Linked DNA regions of Homo sapiens: region 2 is linked to region 1. The links come from fine-mapping of genetic effects on gene expression. Tissue or cell type: whole blood. Region 1 holds a variant in brackets; the other region holds the start of a gene. All regions are shown on one strand. Distances are from middle to middle.

Region 1 (8,110 bases):
TAATTTCAGAGAACAAAGGTTACTTTACAGATTTCTCTATTAAAGACACAAGAAATGAACAAGATTTCACTGAACTCAAAAATATTTTGCTAATGGCAAATGTAATGGTCTTAAACAATAACATGAAAATAAAAGAGACTTCTCTTTCAACAATAAGCAATTAGTGGTTACAGTCAAAAACAAAATAAAACAAAACACCACAAGGCTGGTTCTTTTCTAATTCCCTAACAAAGAAACCTTGATGCTAGAGTACATCAGAATTTAAAGGTGCTGGGGTAACATAAGTTACAAGCTTGTGCCACTTTTGGCCAGTAACACCAAATATAATGCAAAGATTAGGAACTAACAAATTCATTAAACCTGCTTATTTTTTCAATGTCTATTCTCAAAAGTACAAATTATGTATGAAATTTTGCCTTCACTGTAGCTGCTCACATGTCATGAGCATGTTTAAAATAACCAAGTTTTGAATTTTTCATTTACTAACATCTTTGATCCAAGGCTGAAGAGCTAACATCAATAGTCTTGTGCACAAAATGCCTTAAAAGTGAAATTAATGCATTGATTCAGTTCTTCCTGGGACAAAACAAATAATAACAACAGACTTAAAGAAGTAGATCCTACTAAAAACTCCCAAGTGCACCTTTTTATTTGTTTGTGTTAATGGACTCCATTTATCTATGTATCACTAACTTCTTAAAACTTCATGTAAAAGAATGTAATTGGTTCTTAGCAATTTATACTCATTTTAACAGCAAAATGTAAGAAATCAGTGGTGATTCTCAACGAAATACTTTATTTTAATGATATTTACATGAGTAACATTATAGTCAATATATATTTTTCCTCATCTTTCTTATGTTAATTTGCTTTTATAACATATTATTGCTCTTTTGTTGCTTAATTTTGATTTTCTTTTTTAAAAATCTTTAAGTCCTGAAACTTTAGCCTCTTAAAGGTTGTCATAGTAAACTTCACTAATATTTTCAAAAGATACACCATTGACAACCAAAAAAGATAACTGGTCAAGGCAAATGAAAAATGAACTTTGATCATTCAACTGGAAATGTTATTTAAACTTTATACTATAAATTCCCCTAGGCAAGACCTGGCTGATCTGACAACACTCCTAAATGAGTTGGTTCCTCAAAATATTATTTTCATGTGTTCCCAGAAATCAAATACATGCTAACACAAGGTCTGTTTTCCTTACCAGTACTCATGTTGCTGAAAAAAGTGGGCATATTTCCATTAATATGAAGTACAGTTAGCTAATTTCTGGTGCTTACACTAAGTTTTAACTAGTGACTTAAAATTAAGATTATTTACAATACAGCAGCTCACTACATCCCAAATTAACAGCTTTCTGGTTAAGGAACTTTATCTAAAATGAAAGAAAGTCAAAAATCCCCTCCCAACGATGTGGTTCCACAGATGATGTTTCTATTTACTGAAAAAGGTTGAGGATCCCTATTCTGAGAATCCAAAATCTGAAATTCTCCAAAATATGAAACTTTGAGTGCAGACATAATGTCACAAGTAGAAAATTCCACACTTGATCTCACATAACAGGTCACAGTCAAAATGTAGACACACAACACAGTTTATTAAGCATCCCCAAGAGAAAAATAAAATTACCTTCAGGGTATGTATATAAAGTGTATATGAAACATAAATGAGTTTCATGTTTAGACTTGGGTCTCATCCCCAAGATTTCTCATTATATATGCAAATATTCAAAAATGTGAAACTATCCAAAATCCAAAACCCTTCTGGTCCCAAGCACTTCGTATAAGGAATACCTCACCTGTTTCTCAAAAGGCAGCACAGAACAACAATGTTTTTCGCTTTGTGAGTTCATATGCTAGAATTGCCTATTTGAGGGACTGCTACAAAGACAGGACAAACTATAGTGTGGCATTAAAAAGCTGTGAAGGAAGTTAGTACGCTCAACAGAAAAGGATACCACATTGCTTCCTTCCCCTTCCCATACCCCTCAAGCCTTCTAAAAAGTTCCATAGGCTCTGGAAAGACCCTCTAAAAATAATTTAGATAAAATATGTATTACGAACCTCCTGAAGGAAATACTGACTCCCCCCTACCCCATTGCCAAGTATACCAAAAGTAGTTTTAAATATTCTTTGCTAGCTAGTTTCAGGGCTTCTAAATTCAATCTTCTAAATGCAACTGTTTCCTCTTTTCTCTAAGACAGAGAAAACACCAAAACAACAGATAAACAGTTTTCTTAGACAGAGCACTTTCTTTTTTCAAACTCAATAATGACACATCAACAAGAAGGTTTCATTTCCCTTCCACAACTCTTGGTTGCTTCCTCAGAGAGCTGAGGTATTTCAAAGCCCTTAACTGGGAATGGAAGGGAGTTAGGGAAGGTGATGTGAATAACAGGAAGGATAACTTTCCCACTGTGTTCTGAGGACTATCACCTCTGACATCAGATACCCAGAATGCCATATGCAGATAGAAACACACTGCCTCTTGTACCATGTTTCTGCATGTGCACCATGATTGACCGGGAAGAAAGAGAACCTATCTTCATTATTAAGATCTGTATTTTTCTCTAGTAAAGATCTAGGGTGGACAAATTCTAGCAATTTATCCTGCTAAAGTCTAGGAACTGGATCTCCTGTGAAGAGTCCATAAAAAAGTATATGTACTACAGAACAGTAGGGCTCCTAGAGGTGGTTTATACCACGTGCAGGAAGAATGTTGTTTACATAGAGTAAACACAAACTTTCTTTTTCCTTCTATGATTTAAGTATTAGAGAAATAAACACCAGTGGTGGTAGCAGGATACCTAATTATATATTTAAAATAATTTGATTGCCTAATGAAATAAACAAACCTTGAAAAGAATAATTAGGCAAACGTGAAGTGGATAATTACAAAATTCCAATTATGCAATGTGGTGATACAACATAAAGGCACAGCTTCACTGTAAAAACTATGTCAAAAGGATGAGGAAAGAGCATTTCAACTAAAGAAGACATTATAGAGCAAAGATCAAATTCTTTTATTTGAAATCATTTGGAGATATAGGTAGCCATCACTACCTACTGCAATCATTTTTCTCAATAATGCAAGAAAAGGTGAGCAAATATGCTGTCATGATTTTCAATTAACATGCAAATGTGAGTGCCCCAGAAAAAAAACTAACCACAAGCTTGGAAAATTATGGTAAAGAAACAGAGAAATGGATCTCTTCCAGACTAAAGGTTTTCAACTCATTCTTCAGTACTTCATTTATTACTACTATAGAAAATTTGAGAAGTATACCAAAAATCAGAATAAATTACCTACACCTACCTATGGAATACAATATTTTAATAAAATAATATTTAATATTAATACCTTGTATTAATATTTTAATACAAGGGTTGCTATAAATGGAAACAAGGCTTTAAAATTTAAATGTGCTTGTTCACATTTCAATGTGAGAGTCATTCAGGAGGGGAAACGCTCTGTTGACAGTGACATAGAACACTTTGATAAAGACTGTGCTCAGAGGGAAGGCAAAAGGCAACACAATGGGAGCAAATGCATTAAGGTTCTTTACCCCCTGTCTCTGTGGTGCTCTTCTTATTTAGAATTTTCAGGATATCTTTGGTAATCTTCTTCAGCTGATGCCTTGCTTCATCACGCTCTTTGCCGACTCCATAGAGAAGGATTGTGCGCTGGTTACATTCATGACTTGAAGATTCATCCTGAAAAACAGAAAATGCATTCTGAAACTCTTGTCTGCAGGGGTGGGGTTGCATTTCATATCCCTGAAATGCACTGACCACAGCACCTCCATGCTGGCTTGCGGTGGTGGCATCCCGCCCTCCCTTCAATTCACCTCAACCTCCACTGGCAACACCCTTGTTTTTCCAGTTTGGAACTTGCTAACATTATAAAAAAAAAAAAAAAA[G/AAG]TGTCAACTGACCTGAAGTCTTAATAGAAGCACTTGATGTGGGCGTACCCTACAAAGTAAGTTTTGGCTATTGAAAAACTTTTCATTGTTTAAAATTGAACATGGTATTAATTTCACATCATGTAACATATTGTCTAGTCATATTTTTCCCTTAAGGAAAATGTTATCTCTTCATAAGCCTGGTTTTATATATAGCAATAGTAAATATTTACATTTAGGGAAAAATATCTTGCTAGGATCCTCAAACACCTTTATAAAAAATATTCCTGGACAGGGTGCAGTGGCTCCTGTCTGTAATCCCAGTGCTTTGGGAGGCCAAGGTGGGAGGATCTCTTGAGGACAGGAGCTCAAGACCAGCCTGGAAAAGAGCAAGACTTCATCTCTACAAAACTATATATATTCCATTTATTTCCAACATGACTGTGTGAGATACATGTATATTTATTTCCAAAAGACAAAACAATAAAGCGTGTAGGTGTCATTAGGTGTGAGGCAAACAGCTGAAAATGCAAACATGTTCTGACATCACCACTCTTCCCTTCTGGACCACCTCTCCACCACCACCCCATAGGCACAGTGAATCCAAGCACCATTTTTTTCCCCACGTGGGAAAGAAATTTAGTCACAGCATAACGAAAGCATATGCACACCACTGAACACATTCCTCAGCCAAAGTAACAGAGTCCAAGATGTGCCCTCTCTTGTGCCTGGCTCTGAATCTTTCTATAGCAATTTCTCTCTTGGATCTTATAATCTTCCATTTTCTTAGAAAATGTCCAAATCTATCCTTTGGTAAACCTCCTTTTCTTACTCTATGTATATTTTTGCCCATGGCAAGCACTTACCCTTCCCAACAGCATCCATCTTATCCTAAGGAGCTTATATGAGAAAAGAATTCCTCACAGAGAAAACAAACTGCACTGTGTTCCTAATTAGCAGTGGCAGCAACAAAGAACAAAAACCTCAGACTAGGAGAAGTCCAATGTTTGACCTGGAGTACTTCACATGTGTACTCTGCACAAAGTAGCATATTGCTTCTGTAGCGTTAAACTAAGCGCCTGTTTTTCTCTCTCCAATTCTGTTACTTGGCTCTCAGTCTTTGTGTCGGTCTGTCTTTCTCAGGGACACACTTGCCACTGCTTCCCATTGCACTGGTTCCTTTTTTATTATACATTACAAGAAATAAACATTTATATGCCCTGCCAATCTATCTATTCCCCACCCCCAAATGATTCTTAATGTTTCAGGTGTTCAAATTTGCCTCCAAAAAAAAAAAAAAGAAGCTAGGAGCGAGTTTCTCTTAGAAGCTGTTCTTATTTAATATCCTGAGTACCTCTCCCAAATTTTCAAAAGATATTCCTAATCATAGGATACAAATGACATAAGCAGTGATCCCTAGAGCTGGCTGCGCATCTGAATGAGCTGAGCTGCTTGCTAATTTCCCATTTTCGTTGTTGCTACAGAGAATTACTGATATATTTCTTTTTTCTTTTTTTTTTTTTTTTTTTTTTTGGTCTGGTGGTTTGTGTACATATGAACCCTAGGAAGGAAACAGGGGGGCACTAATAAAATTATGAAAAATGAAGGCAGTGCCAGTCACATGCTTTGGCAATTGTTTTCAGTTAAGGCATATCAGATGGTCCTAATGTAAATGTCCATGTGAAGGCTGATGACTGTAGCATAGTTATTCAGTAACTGTTTATAGAATATCTATTTGAGGCAAGACAAAATGCTAGGAGCCCTGAAAAAATACAAGGATGAATGATTCCTGTCTTCAAGGAGCACAGATTCAATGTCATCAAAGTAGTATTTACAGACCTAGAAGTCCAAAGAGGGGTGGTGAAGGAAAGCATCCTAGAAAGAGCCACGTGCTCCTCACATCGCACAGGATCACTATGGCTCCAAATTTACTGATAATAGCCCAAGCTTGGGGTAAGAGAGCTGTGACTGCATACTGGTTGTGCCACTTGCCAAGTCCATGATCTCGAATAATAAACCTTTCTAAACCTCTAATTCTTCCTCTGAAAAATGGGGTAACATCGCTTCCTTGTAAGGTTTTTGTGAGAAAACCTGGGATAAAGCGTGTAAAATGCTTCGAAGTATAATGGACAGTGTTCACTACTGTTAATTCACATGCTAGACTTCCCCTCCTCCTCTGCACATCCCCCACACCCACACCGAACTGCCTTACTCAACATTTCACCAAGACTCCAGGGCACTTCCTCCCTTTGCTGTTGCTCGTCCTTACACCTAAAATACTCTCATAGCCACGATTTCACTTGCTGAAATGCTATGTACAAATACAGTGTCAGTTCCCTCACTCTGTCACTCCAGTTTATTGAAAACCTCCCCACAGAAGGAGGGGAAGTAGACTTTGGAGCATTTATTACAGTATAATTCACTTATTTTCTAGGTATTTGTTTAATGTCTGTCTTCCTCATTAGTGTGTAAATTTTGTGGAAGACTCCATGTCTGTTTTGTTCATTTTTATAATCTCCTTAATAGGCAATGAATTAGCATCTAATATTTGTTGAACATACTAAATACAAAATAAGCAGACTAATGAACAAATATATAGCTAAAGGAATAGGGCAGAGGTGAAGATAAGGAGAAAAATTAGTTTTGTAGGAAACTTTACCTGATGATTAAGTGTTGAGAAAAATGAAGGGGAGATGTGAGAGACAAAGCTAGAGTAAAAAAGTTTGTAGGGTGAACTAAGTTTTAGTGGTGGGAATGAAGACTAAGAAGCAAAATGAAGAGGTATCTAAGAAGTTAGGAAAGGATCAGGCTTTTGAACCCAAGGAGTAAATGTGCATCTCACTGGACTTCAAGATGTATCCACTAGTTAAAATTATTTATAATGTATACTAATAAATAGTATTGTTTATATTACCAAGTAATTATTATTAATCTATTTACAATGTATAAAAAATTAATACATTATAACAGCAGGGAACTTTTGAATTTACATGTAATTGCAAGGAATTTGAAGGGTAGGTAGAAATGTGTAAATGTCCAGTAATTGGTTTGATATGGGCCCTAACACAGAGGTGACAGCTCAGGAATAAGGGCAGTATGTCAAGTCCTGGGAGGGGTGCAAAACCTTCACATTATGTTTAGGGAAGAAGGGCTAAGAGAGCTGAGATGGTGAGGGGAGAAATAAGCCAGCAAATGGTGCACATACATGCTCCTTAATTAACAAGATACTATAATTCAGGGTCACACAAGTCAGGGGAGGGGATACATAAGAAAGAGTGTCACTGACAACGTCCAGTGAGGTTAAGAAGTCACAATGGATGTGACTTCTTGTTTACTGACAAACCATGTGTGAACCTCAAAGGAGAAGAAGTTTCTCTAAGTGGCAGGGCACAAAGCTAAGAAACAAGCGGTTAAAGTAAGAGGTGATGATGAAATGGTGAAGATAGGGAAGTGACCCACATTTACCAGGAGTTGGGCATGAAGAACAACAGCTTGAGAGGAAAGAGCGTTATGAAGATCATCAAAAGACTCTTGTTTCAGACCTATCTTTCAAATAAACAAATTTCCATAGTAGAAATCAAGATTGGGGAACAGATAACTGATGATAAAGGATATAAGAGACAATGGCCTCTTAGCTGGATTAATATGGAAAGAAAGAAAGGAACATCTTTCTACTTGACCATCGGGAAAAAAAGAAAATTAGTGAAAATAAAAAGACATTTTGAGGTGAAGAAGACACTTAAGAAGCTCAAATCATTCCTTGGCCTTGATATGCTCAGGGAGTTGGGCCAAGGAACAAAGTCATGAGTTGAGAATGCAGGGATAAAACTGAAAGCAAAAGCAGCACGTAGTGAGCTGGAAAAGAATCACTGCTCAACCTCTATAAGGGGTGTAAAGACAGTATTCCTTTCTTAGCATTAATATTTTCAGGGAACTCATGCTAGGTGTTACTACAGTAGTCTTCAAATAGGACAGGCAGAGGCATTTTAGAAGCTACTATTTTTCAAGAGCCTACAAGATTTGTTTACATCAGTTTTTCATACAAGTAGAAAATGTAGGCTGGGCATGGTGGCTCACATCTATAATCCCAGCACTTTGGGAGGCTGAGGTGGAGGATCACCTGAGGTCATGAGTTCGAGACCAGCCTGGCCAACATGGGAAAACTCCATCTCTACTAAAAATACAAAAACTAGCCAGGCGTGG
Region 2 (8,110 bases), 35 kb before region 1:
CACCATCAAATAGATTTCTGTTGTAATGAAAAGATTATTATACGTGGGGAACACTAATAGAGAAACAAGAAGTAAAACTATTTTAAATTAGGCTTATTTTCATCTTTTATAAAGTCTGAAAACATGGTAAAGAAGGAAAATATATGAGGGTAAGATGGAATAGTAAAACATAAAATCTCAGGAACATCCTATTGGCTATGCTAACTCCAAGTTTTATCAAAGAAAAACCAAATAGAGCTTTTTATGTTAATTTACTGAAGATATCAACCACTTAAAATACAATAAATATTTTAGACATATTAAAAATATGTGAGAGAATGGGATTGTATAGTTCTAAAAATTTCAAGTTTCAAACCCGAGGAAATTAGGAGGCACTGAAATATTAATTAAATATTACAATGGAAGCCTACAATTAAAATAAAATTATTAAAAGTGGAGGACGGAAAATCAAAAGCTTTAATCTTTTGTCTGTGACAAGTCATTGTGTGCCATTCAGTTAATGCAGAAACCTGTTAGGAGAACTGTCATAACAAAACTTATCCTGCTCTTGGTAATGTTTCGAGGGATATGATTTGGGCACGAGTAAATCTCATACTAAATGCTAATGAGCCAAGGTTCTCCTTCCTTTCCCCACTTACATCAACTCTTGAGCTAGATTTCGTCTTGCGCTTCCTTCCTTTTGTTTTCTTTTCTTCATCTGTTGTGGTTTTTCCCTGATCTGACAGCTCAGCGGACTTCCTTTCTGGTTCCTGAGAAACTGGAGATGTGGGCTCTTCCTCTTCCTCCTCAGGAGGCAGGGGCAGTGGCTGGAGGTAGTAACTGCGGGGCTTGGGCATGGGGTGTGTGTGATACAGCAGGAGGTGATGCTGCTCCTCGTACTTGATCACTCTTCGGTCCACTCGGACTGTCCCAAACCAGGCCCAGGACAAAGGAGCTGGGTTCTTCTGACCCTCAAACAAGTCCCACGGGGACACCTTCTGCTTCGTAGAGACCTGGAGACCCTGTGGGAAAATAGCGCTCTAAGATAGCACACTCAGATCTTTTCCTTATTCATAGGCCAGGCTTGTATGGGACATGGAGTCAGAGAACACTTTGGCTGGCATGAGCCCTAGAGAACCCGAGAATACAGCAGAGAGGGTTACACAGCTACATCACCGGAGAGCAGTGGCTAGAATTCAGACCTTTGTAAGCCCGGTTCTACAGTTCTTTAACCACATGATGCTCTGTTTAGGCAACAGAGGCAGTCTAGCATATTTTATTGTTAATGTGTATTTCCTCTTTTTGCTAAAAAAATTCTAAAAATTTGTTGCTAAAAATTCTAACACTGCAAAGTTAATCTTACTAAATTATAACCAGTTCTAAATCTCTGTAATCTATTTATAATTTTGAAGATAATATCAAATTTAAGAGTCAAGTTATAGTCAACCTGTAATTGGGTTAGTATTAACTTCAATCCAAATCTGCATGAACTTGGTTCAATATGTGGGCCCTGTACTTAATAAGCCATACTCTGAATATAATATTATTATTAGAGAATTAAATTGTAGCAGCAGGAATAAGTAAAGTCTTTCAACTCAAGCTTATATTTACTGACTCTAGAAAAAAAAAAACGGTTACCCTCTTTTTATTCTTAACATTAATTGGTGACATCTCTTGGCACTTGCCTTAAAATGTCAATTTAAAAATATTTTTCCTTAAATGGCCCCCAAATAACTACTCAGTCATTCCCTAAGATGTAAGTGTTACTGTTGTTATCTATATGCATTCTTTTATGAGTAGCTTCATCTAAAACTAAGGTTCAGGCCAGGCACAGTGGCTCGTGTCTGTAATCCCAACACTTGGTGAGGCTGAGGCGGGTGGGATCACCTGAGGTAAGGACTTTGAGACCAGCCTGGCCAACATGGTGAAACCCCGTCTCTACTAAGAATACAAAAAAAGGCTAGGTGTGGTGGCTCACACCTGTAATCTCAGCAATTTGGGAGGCTGAGGCAGGTGGATCACGAGGTCAGGAGTTCAAGACCAGCCTGGCCAAGATGGTGAAACTCCGTCTCCACTAAAAATACAAAAATTAGCCAGGCATGATGGCAGGCACCTGTAATCTCAGCTACTCAGGAGGCTGAGGCAGAGAATTGCTTGAACCCGGGAGGTGGAGGTTGCAGTGAGCCGAGATCACGCCACTGCACTCCAGCCTGGGTGACAGAGCAAGACTCTGTCTTGAAAAAAAAAAAAAAACAAAGACAAAAACAAAAAAAAATTAGCTGGGCCTGGTGGTGCATGTCTGTAATCCCAGGTACTCAGGAGGCTGAGACAGGAGAATCGTTTGAACCCGAGAGACAGAGGTTGCAGTGAGCAAAGATCGCACTACTGCACTCCAGCCTGGGCGACAGAGCGAGATTCCATCTCAAAAAATATAAATAAACAAAGTAAAACAAAATAAAACCAAGGTTCAATTGCCACCTGTAAATTGACTGTTTCCTAATATTTGTCTTGAGATGAGAACTTTTTCCTTGGTGTAAAAACCACACATCCAAATGGATTCCAGATGTCTTACTACCAGGAAGTCCGCTGACACTGCAAACTCAAACTTGACCATGACTTTAGCTTTTTTTCTTTACACAAACTGGTATTAGATTCTCAGGCTACTCTAAATTCCCTGGTAAATCTGATTCTTTCATGTCTTCATATAAACTCTCCCTTTATTTGTACCACAATTTTCCCTACCTCCCAGCTAACTCTTAATCCTTCAAAATGACTCGTGTCAATTTTCCTGGGGACCCTCTATTCTATCCCCTAATACTCTCTCTGTACCATGTCACACAAATCTCATTACACTGTAATTGTCTGTCTACTTCCCCCTTGAGGGTAGGAACTCTGTCTTTCATCTTGGTGATTGTGGAATGTCGGTGGTTGCTTACTGTTCATTAAAAGAGTAACTGACCAATTTTCTCATATTTTAGAGAACCATCTTTAATATCTTATATAAAACAAATGTCCATTAAATACTGCTTGATAGGAATAGAGAATATCCTAACAATTAAAATAATTTTTATTTGAAATAGCTTACTACAGGAAGGTTTTTTTTTTTTTTTCCCCCCCCAGAGACAGGGTCTCACTTTGTTGCCCAGGCTAGGGTGTAGTGGCTATTCACAGGCATGAGCCTAGCACATTGCAGCCTTAAACTCCTGGCTTCAAGCAATCCTCCTGCCTCAGCCTCCCAAGTAGCTGGAACTAAAGACATGTGCCACCATGCTCAGCTTACAAGAAATTTTTCATTGATAAATATATTCTGCTTCTAAATCTGAAGTATAATCAGAACTTATTTATGCAATTTTTTTTTTACACTAAGCTTTTACTTAGTTTTCTCTTGGTAGGTTTCCAAAAATTTACTTAAATTCAGGGAAACATTTTAAGTCCTTTAAACATATAAAACGTAGATCTTCAAAGATATGACCTCTTTATATGATAATGCCAATGACTAAGTACACTTAGAAGACAAGCATATGCCTTAAAAACATCAACAGCAAAATTAATATATTTTATATATCCTATGGTAAGACAAAAAAAAGTATTTCATCTTTTGTAAATAAATTTATATATAAGAAAAAACATTCACTCTTGCCTGTTTTTTATCTATAGAGTCAAATCCAGCAATTTTGTTTCCTTTTGTGTCAATCAAGGAACCCATAGGTTCACAAGTGATGACATCACATGTCTGTTTCGGCAAAGGTAGTAACTGTCGAACTTTGTCAATACTTTCTGATCGCTTGTCTCCTAGCTCTTTCTAAAGAAAAAAGAGAGAGAGAGAGAGTGAGAAGTGGGACAGAAATTACAATGAAGGCAAAAGTTAACCAGAAGGAAGTTCCCCTATGAAACATTTCCCTTTTTATAGCTTAGCGCATGTTCTTTAACCCTGAACATGTTCTACAAGGCAGTTCCAAATAGAGCAATGAGTGTTTCATTTCTTCTATTTAAGTAGAAAATAGAACACATACAAAGGCACTGTTGTTACACAACAAACATCATAGTGCTGAAATGACAAAAATCCAGGGTAGTGATCACAATCAGAAGACAGGAGCTGCAGAACAGAACACTTTCTCATGTCCAGGGTCAGATTACAAGGTAACCATTGATTTATTTGATTGGTAATGCATCAGATTTATTTGGTTTCTTTTTTGCACTGTTTTCTTACAATTTTTTTTTAAAGGAGTCTGTTAGTGGTCGGTCAAATGAATCGATTTATAAATTTCAATGCAGATGGCTATTTTTTCAATTACACGTGCCAGTCCAAGCATAGAGTTATCCTAAATCTATCTAATGTTAGTATTCTGGTTATATATTTAACAGTGGATTTCTAAAGTTCTTTAAAAAATTAAACATGTTTTATAATGTAATTGTTTTCAATAAAAAATAATCAAGGTTATGTGCATGTAACTTCTGGGTACTAATAAGGTTAGGTGAAACAAATAGCAAATAATCACATTAAATTAAGTTGAATACAATTAATAACATTTAATGAGTAATAAATTAAAATGCACTAGATAATAAATCCATAAACAACTTGAGCTCATAATACAGGCTGATCTCAAACTTACTTTCAGTTTCTTTACTAAATTCATGTATGCACGCTTGTTCTCTTCAGATCCCCCAGGGGATGCATTTGATAGGTCAGAGGCTAACGTTCCATTGATTAAAACACCCAGCATGTCAAGAACTGTTGTGAATAATTCACTAAGAAAGAAAATAATTATTTTCATCTTAAAGTGAAACTGAAATACACTTATTTAACTGAGTATTTTTATTCAAGGCACAGAATTTTTAATAGCATCCAAGTAAATAAGATGTGGCAGAAATCGCCATCAGTATATCAAAGCTTATACCATGCATACATGTAGCAAAATCAATGTGAAGTGATAAAAACATACTTGTTAGTGTGCATGTCAACAGTTCCTGAAGTAATGATCTGAAGGAGTAGCAGGGCCCAGTCTGTAGTCCACTGGGTGCTCCTCTGCACCGTGTCAAACATTCCTCCTACCTAGCAGACAAAATACAGTAAGATATTTGCATTCTGTAAAACAGAAAGAACACCCCATTGCTTTATGTTATCAAATTTTGATTGTTTTTTATTTAAAAAAACAAGGGATGCTCTAGTTTATAGATTACCTTATCTTTTCTCTTTTACCTACATGTTTATCACTATTTTTAGTTCTTTCAGCACAGTTCAGTCATTCAAACATTAACTAAAATGAAGAAGGGACGTGAGTATCTGAATGTGGGCACCAATAAACTTAGCTTTCTTTTGTTCCAAATCTTTTATGATGTCCAGTTTTATGATGCAATTATAGTTGAATTAAACCTGAATAATGTCAAAGTCATGTAATCCAATTATCTGCATCTTTGTGTTTGCTGTACAATTACTATTGAATCTAAGCCTGCTATCATAATACCATATGGAAACATCCACTATCACAGCAGTGGTGGGCAGGAGGCTTGGCCCGCACACCTACCAGTTCACGTGTTGGGACAAGGTTAGAAACAACTGCAAAAGTATCAGGCAGGCCATCCTCCAGAGGGGCCTGCACTTGGGCCTGCCTGATGGGAAAAGAAAACTCAAGGAATGCACAATATGTGAGACATTTTAAATTTCTATAAAACTTCTCTGTGGGATTTGTCTTTATAATCAATTTGATGGAAAGTTGGACAAAACTTTGAGTTAAAAGACTTTTTAAATGGTTTTAAGTAAGTATAGTAGAAGCTAACACTTATAACAGTCTTCTCAGATTTATTCTTAGCACAAACTGAAGAGAAGGAGAGATTCACTGGGGTAGAGGTAGAGAAGGCAAATCTATGCTTAAAATACCTAGCACTGTCTAGATGTCTGACCAGACAGGAAGGAAAGCAGCAAGGGAAACAGAAGGCTTTAGAAACAGGGAAGTAATTACAGAGAGCAAAGAGTGGAAGGCCTCACCTTGTAATGCAGACTTTGCACTTAGGAGAAGTGGAAAGCTGGAGGTATTTTCACATGTAAATATGTTTAATGGAGGGAAAATACTAGAAATGTCACTTACCAAATTTAGGCGGAGTTGCAATGCTTCGTGCATCATCTGCCGCGCTTTTATGTCATCTTGGTATCGTTCTTCTCTCCAGTTACTTAAAATCTAAGATCCGGAAAAAAACTCCCCATTAAAGTTTAATTTTTCTCTCATTTAAAGATAAATTGAGCTTTATACTGATAGCAAAAAACCACTTCTTATCTTTAACAAATTAACAAACAAAGCTAAATAAAATTTTAGCTTTCTTCTTCCTCCATGCAGAAAGAAATCTGGCTATTTATTTGTGCATTTGCCGTTCTAGGTGGAGGAAGAAAATCTTATATAATTATATAGCTAGCCTATGATTAAGTCTGGGAAAATGCTTGAGAGGGCCATCAAATTAAGCATTAATAAAAACTTTTAAAATACATTACCTCATTGATCTTACGAAGAAAAACACTGGAGAGAGAGAATTACATTTTGCCTCAGTCCTGTTATATTTCTAGGGACTTGCTGAACCCTAGCAAATGTATTATTTTGATGTTTTATAGAAGAGAAGGTCTGCTATCTTATGTATGTGTCTTCCTTGATAAAGAGAACGCACGGTACTTTGAAAAATATGGCATTGCAGACATCAGCCAAGTGGCTTTATCAGTTTATAAAGTGGGCTGCTTCTTCACTTCCTCACTGACTCACACTAATGCTGGAAAAGGAAAAATTTGCTTAGGAAAGGGAGCCACAAGTGGGCAACACCCTAAAATCAGATGAGATGAGCAAAAAAAAAGTGCAATTCAAAACAAAAACAAAAAACCACTAACAAAAACCCTATCATGCTCTGAAATATGGTCATTAATGAGAGTCATCTTAAAAGAGTTCAAATGAGTCACATGCAGAAGTACTCCATCCCAACAGATGACCTGTAAGTACCCTGCAAGGTGAGAGGAAAGCACTTCCCAAATCTCATCAGAAGAAATGAACCCCTCCCTAAGGCTGGCTTAAGGGGGCAAGGTAGTTAACTAAACAACAAGCTCTCATGGAGCTCAAATAATAGTAGTGGGACAAATAAAACTAAGTGTAACAAGTGGTTTGAGGCATGGCAATGGCATACAGAATGGCTGTGGTCCTATTTTTAGAGGTGATCAAAGGCCTCCCGAAGGAGGTAACATCTTAACAGAGAACTGAATGAAGGGAGCAGGCCATGCTAATCTCTGGAAGGGAATCTTTCCACCTAAAGGGAAGAAAAGATGCACAGGCACTGAAATGAGAATTTGCTCAGCAAGTTCAAGAACAGTAACATGGCCAGTGCAACAACCATGGAGGAAAGAGGGCCATGACTGGTAGGAGACAAGGTAGGAGAGAGAGCCAGTGTCAAATCATGTCTGGCCTTATCAGCCCGAATTTTTTATACTAGGTATACTGAGGTAATATGTGACTTCCATTTAAAAAGGTTCACTATGATTGCTATATCTAGATCTCTCCTACCCAAAAGGTGAGAAATGACAAGAGGATCAAATAAGATTAAGTGTCCTTGTCCATGTCCATCTAGTACCATTCGAGGGAAAGACATGGTGTCATAGAAACACAGTGCCACAAGAAGGGGTCAATTAGGCTGTGTATCAGGATAAAACACCTCATAAGACCAATCTATCCACTTTGCTTAATTCCATGCTCTCCAATTTCTGTTGTGAATGCTCAGTTTCCTTATAGTACATAGATGCAAGAGCCTCAAACAGTGACCAGGAGAACTGTGTTTGGTGAAAAGGCAATGTCCAAATTATTTCTAAATAAACCAACATGCCTTCTGATTTATTTCTTGTGTACTTGGTTGGCATCAATACAACTGAGTTTCTGAACCTACAGATTTCAAGCTGAAAGCGTGCCTGATAATGTGGCATCCAAGCTTGAGGAGCTGGACTCACTGCCATGCCTACTGCAGCATAGATTGCTCCAGGTCCTCTCCTATGAGGCAGAGTTAGGAGACGGGCAGATAGTTCAAAGTTATATGCAATATATAAAATTTTACTTTTATAGGCAGTACACATTTATTGTATATATCTCATTAATATAAAGTTGTTAATCTT

The links. PIP is the estimated chance that this variant, and not a neighbour inherited with it, causes the effect.
Region 2: P2RY12 starts here. The variant in region 1 is fine-mapped to the expression of P2RY12 in whole blood (INTERVAL, PIP above 0.99).

What each region holds. Positions count from the first base shown.
Region 1 is chr3:151,345,671-151,353,780 of GRCh38, reverse strand. MED12L (mediator complex subunit 12L) reads right to left here. Exons shown (of 45, transcript NM_001393769.1): 17 at 3,575-3,722. The region is part of intron 1 of P2RY12 (purinergic receptor P2Y12); the gene reads left to right. Among named protein-coding and RNA genes, the nearest start is that of P2RY13, 20 kb to the right of the region's middle. The variant G/AAG (reference allele first, on the strand shown) is at 3,929.
Region 2 is chr3:151,380,701-151,388,810 of GRCh38, reverse strand. It overlaps P2RY12 (purinergic receptor P2Y12), which reads left to right and starts at 4,058. Exons shown (of 3, transcript NM_022788.5): 1 at 4,058-4,119. MED12L (mediator complex subunit 12L) reads right to left here. Exons shown (of 45, transcript NM_001393769.1): 33 at 6,066-6,155; 34 at 4,923-5,032; 35 at 4,593-4,728; 36 at 3,620-3,781; 37 at 639-1,001.